2 separate regions of the Homo sapiens genome follow, and region 2 is linked to region 1. The links come from fine-mapping of genetic effects on gene expression. Tissue or cell type: whole blood. Region 1 holds a variant in brackets; the other region holds the start of a gene. All regions are shown on one strand. Distances are between the middles of the regions.

The links. PIP is the estimated chance that this variant, and not a neighbour inherited with it, causes the effect.
Region 2: it holds the start of FBXW8, and the variant in region 1 is fine-mapped to the expression of FBXW8 in whole blood (TOPMed, PIP above 0.99).

The regions. Positions count from the first base shown.
Region 1 is chr12:117,009,001-117,011,756 of GRCh38, forward strand. FBXW8 (F-box and WD repeat domain containing 8) reads left to right here. Exons shown (of 11, transcript NM_153348.3): 8 at 1,323-1,450. Among named protein-coding and RNA genes, the nearest start is that of TESC, 89 kb to the right of the region's middle. RefSeq lists an enhancer at 717-1,468. The variant CGT/C (reference allele first, on the strand shown) is at 1,390.
Region 2 is chr12:116,909,632-116,912,131 of GRCh38, forward strand. FBXW8 (F-box and WD repeat domain containing 8) reads left to right here and starts at 1,319. Exons shown (of 11, transcript NM_153348.3): 1 at 1,319-1,724. The coding sequence starts at 1,407. RefSeq lists silencers at 1,147-1,366, 1,527-1,786.

The DNA.
Region 1 (2,756 bases):
AGCTTGCAGTGAGCCAAGATCGCGGCCACTGCACTCCAGCCTGGGCGATAGAGTGAGACTCAGTCTCAAAAACAAAAACAAAAACCTTTGGCTGGGTGCAGTGGCTCAGGCCTGTAATCCCAGCACTTTGGGAGGCCAAGGCAGGGGGATCACTTGAGCTCAAAAGTTTGAGACCCGGCTGGGCAACATAGTGAGACCGCTTCTCTACTTAAAAAATTTTTTAAAAAAGAAAGAAAGATATCATCAGCAGGCCGTGGTGTTACACACACATGGCCCCAGCTACTCGGGAGGCTGAGTGGGAGAATTGGCTGAGCCCAGGAGTTTGAGGCTACAGTGAGCTATAATGTTGCCACTGCACTCCAGCCTGGGTGACAGAGCAAGACCCTGTTCCCCCACCCCCTCAAAAAAACCAAAAACTTCTGAGTTCATTAATTTAAAAATGTCAACCACATGATCTCCAGGATAGAAAGTATGCTCAGAACTTGGTGTGTTTGTGTGTGTGTTAATGAGGAGCCTTCTGAATGTGAATTTGAGGCAAGGACTCTGTCCTCAGCACCTACGACAGTGACTGACACATAGGAAGCATTTAATGTTCTTTGAATTAAGTTGAATTGAATTAATACTTTTTAAGCAAAAAACGTAAATTTCCCCCTGCTGGAGAGAAGACACAGAGGTGTTCTAATATAACAGTGCATTGTCTGGAAATCAGGGGTACCTTCTTATTTACTTTCATACCCTATGGAACACAGCATCCTAACATTAGCAAGCAGAGAGTGAAGAGAAAAGTGTTTGGGAGTGAGTTTGTGTTTTGGTTTATAGTTCAGTCCGAAGGAAGCATCCAGTGGCTATGCAAGCTTCATCTTCCTGGTCCTTGTACTATTCTTTCTTTTCCCGCCTGTGACGTAAATTCAGATGAGAACTCATGCTGGCTCATCTGCAAGCTTCCTGATGCTTTGCGAGCTTTCCCATTCATTCCAAATCAGAAGCAGTCAGTGGCCCCGTGGTTTCCAGACGGCTTTCTCTTTGTTAAGAAATTAGAATACCTGATTTCCCTGCGTTTTCCTTGTGGCCTGAGTGTGCACCTTGGCTTGAGGAATTCGCTGGATTTCCTTCTCTCTTCCTTTGCATTTCTTTTTGGCACTCTTAATAGCCATGTCCCTATACTATCAGTAACCTGAAAAAGATCAGGAAATTAAGTGGCAGAACATCTTCACGGGAGCTCAGTGATAAGGATCATGCCCTCCACGATGGTGAAATGAAAGTATTTGATGTCGGCCTGGTGTGTGGAATTGTGGGCCCACACATTTCTCTTCCTCTCTCAGATCCTGGTGTATAGCCTGGAAGCAGGACGCCGCCTCTTGAAGCTGGGTAACGTTCTCCGTGACTTCA[CGT/C]GTGTCAACCTCAGCGACAGCCCTCCCAACCTCATGGTCAGTGGCAACATGGACGGGAGGTACGTGAGTTGGAAGGGCATTGCCTTGCAGCCCCATGGCTTCTGCCAAGGCCCGGCCCCCACTGCGCTGCTCACACTGCCCGGTTCTCACTCAACAGCTCTGCCCACCTGAGTTCAGCCCCGATCCCATAAACACTCTAGACTCAGAGAACAAAGTCCTGTATTAGGTAATAGTTGGATGTAGCTATGTCTCTGCTTCATTTCTGAAGCACCACGGGAAGGTTTTCTTTTAAGCCATTTGGTGGCCGCAGTTGGTAGAAGGTCCAGGGAGACCACTTGGAATATCTTTTGTCCCCTGCTGCAAAATTTGTTTGGCACTTGAAAGCTCACTTTCTAATATTAAAAACAGTAACCTAAGGGATGAATCATGTTCAGCAAAATAGGGTTTCCTGCCAAACGATGTCAAGAGTGTATTTCAGAACACGGTGGTGTCCCTCTGGTGATGGAAGGAAAGAGAGACTTCATGTGAACAGATTCCACTTTCTATTTAGCTGATTAGCAGCCTTCTCTTTAATGCACTGGCTTAGGGAGTCGGATTTTCCCGGTATAGGGGCCTGTGCCAGCCCCGGGCGCCCCAGGAACCATCAGCACAAAAGGATTAAAGTGTTTGAAAAGACCCTTTGAGTCCAAATTTTAGGTTTCTCCCCGCCTCTTCTTTCCTTGTTTTTTTCTTTTCCTTTTTTTTTTTTTTTGGCCAGTTATCTGCTGTGTCTGATCCAGTGCCCTGAAGAGAGGTAGCATGGCTGAGGGCCAGGGGCTGCTGGCGCCCCCTCCCCTGGGCCCGGCCCCGGGCTGCAGGTGGCGGGCTGCTCGGAGGCGGGTGTCAGATCGTGAGGCGGGTACTCCTCTGTGCCAGATCCCAGGCCTCTGTCCCGCCAGTGCAGCAGCTTGCAAAAATAGTTATTCTGTCAAATAATATTTTCACCTCCCAACCTTCACCCCTAGATACCCACCCCCAACTTAGAGCAAGGAAATGATGTGAGTATGCTTTATTGGGAAGAAAAATAAGGCCTCCTAAAATGGCTGATGTTCCGGTGCTTGAGAACTGAACTCCTCAGTGTGTGTGTGGGGCACGCACTGGGCTAGTTCTCTTTAGAAACTAGGCTTGATAAGTGGCCCCACATGTGGCACGGCAAAAGAATCAAGTCAGTTTGTAGTTTTAATCCCGCATTTTAGTTTTCAGGTTGAGCTATACAGAGGCTCCAAGCTCCTCTCCTAGGATCTCCACACAGGGACCTGGCAGCTGCTTGGTTTTGAGGAGAGGCGATGTGGAGAGCTCTTTGGGATGGTGGATGGTGCTCAGAGT
Region 2 (2,500 bases), 99 kb before region 1:
AACAAAACAAACCAAACAAACAAACAAACAAAAAACCATTTATTGAGCATGTATTAATCACCAGTCTCAAAGCTAAGAGTTGCCAATCTAGAAGGGAAGGGATATATATATATACATAAAAATAAAATTACAAATTGTGTTATGTATTATGATGAGAAGTACAGGATGCTGTGAGAATGAGTAACAGGGATACCTGATGTTTCTTGAGTGGAGGTTGGAAGATTAAGTGAAATGTGAGTTGAGATATGAAAGATGTGTAGGAGTTAACCAAGTCAAGGTGGGGGGAAAAGTTCCCTGCTGAGGGAATATCAGGTGCAAAGAAAACATTTTTAAGTGGAACGCCATCGTATGTCATTTTCTTTCCCATCTTAAAGCCCTTGGATTTCCTTCTGGAAATCTCTCTCCTAAGATCTGACCTTCCCTTGGCTGGTTTCTCTTTCAGATTTTTAAAAAAAAATTTTTATTTCCACAGGTTATTGGGAACAGGTGGTATTTGGTTACATGAGTAAGTTCTTTAGTGGTGATTTGTGAGATTTTGGTGCACGCATCACCCGAGCAGTATACACTGAACCCAAGTTATAGTCTTTTATCCCTCCCCACCTTCCCACCCTCCCCTCGTCCCCCTCCCCTGTTCCAAAGTCCCATAAGTCATTCTTATGCTTTTGCATCCTCGTAGCTTAGCTCCCACTTATATGTGAGAACATACGATGTTTGGTTTTCCATTCCTGAGTTACTTCACTTAGAATAATAGTCTCCAATCCCATCCAGGTTGCTACGAATGCCATGAATTCATTCCTTTTTTATGGCTGAGTAGTATTCCACCATATGTATATATCAGTTTCTTTATCCACCTGTTGATTCTCTTTTAGATTTTAATTTAAATAACATCTTAAACAGACTTTCACTATCAATCCTTACTCCCCTTACCTTACCTTATTTTGTTTTCTTCCTAATACCTATCACTGATTTAAATGTTCATATTTCTTTGTTTAAAGTCTCCCTACTTAAACGCATGCTCCAAGACGTCAGAGTTTTTGTTTTGTTTTACAGATTTAAATGCTGAATTCTTGGTGCCTGGCATATAGTAGTTGCTGAATGAATGTTTGTTGAATGAAGGAACAATGCTTGGCGCAAAGTCAGAGCTTAGCAAAAGTGATAGGCAGCAGAGCTGACGGGCTGAGGGGCAGCTGCGTAAACCTCTGCTTTGGGCGCCACAAGCCACAAGCCGGACCACCACGTGCGTACAGGGGCAGCGCCGGGGGCGTGGCGGGGGCGTGGACGCCCACCCGGAACCCTAGAGCGGCGGCGGCAGCGGCTTCCGGCCGCGGCGGACACTTCCCTGGGCGGGACTGTCTCGTGGCACCCGGTGGAACCGAGGAGAACGTGGAGCGCCGGGAGCGGCGAATATGGACGACTACAGCCTGGATGAGTTCCGTCGGCGCTGGCAGGAGGAGCTGGCGCAGGCCCAGGCGCCGAAGAAGCGGCGACGGCCCGAGGCTGCCGAGAGGCGGGCTCGGCGGCCGGAGGTGGGCTCCGGGCGCGGCGAACAGGCCTCGGGGGACCCGGCGCTGGCCCAGCGTCTCCTGGAGGGCGCGGGGAGGCCCCCGGCGGCGCGGGCGACTCGGGCCGAGGGGCAGGACGTAGCGAGCCGCTCACGTTCTCCTCTGGCCCGCGAGGGCGCCGGGGGCGGGGAGCAGCTGGTGGACCAGCTCATCCGCGACCTGGTGAGTGGCCGTCGCCTCCCCCCCGCCCATGCCTGCGCCGGCCCCCGCCCCCAGGACAAACCCCTGCAGTGATTTGGAGAGTAACTGTGTGCCACTAGTTGCCCGAGAAAATGAGTAGACGCACAAACACCAATGTTTGTGCTTGCATAGGGGTCTTTCTGGAAGCAGCACTTCCCAACCAGGGCGATTTTGTTCCCCCAGATGTGGCAGTGTCTGCAGACATTTTTGGGTGCCTCATCGGGGTGTGTATGTGTGCATGTTACTGGGCATCTAGTGGGTAGAGGCCAGAGATGCTCCTGAACATCCTACAGTGTACAGGACACCACGCACAAAAAAATTATCCAGGACAAAATATCAGTAAGTGTGGGGTTGAGAAATCCTGCTCTTGAAGGCTACCTAAACTTTGAACAAAGGTTGCCTTTGAAAAGGAGGACCCAGATGATGGATAGGAAGTAATTTTACCTTTGTATACTGTTTGCACTATTTAATTTTTGTAACCGTGCACGTATTCAAAAAAATTATCTCAGAAAAAAAGGAAGAAGAGGAGGAAGAATCTCCTGGGCACTTTCATTAGGATAGAGTTTCTTATCTTTTTGTGGGGCGTGGATACCTTGGAGAATCTGGAGGAAGCTGGGGACCCTGTGTCCGTTAAAAATAATCCCCTTCAGAAAGTTGGGAAAATCAAGAACACCTGAAATGCATCCGTGGCTCCCAGGTTAAGAGGACAAGGCTCCAGGTTCTAATGGTTTGATTTAAATTAGGCCCAAAGGAAGTCC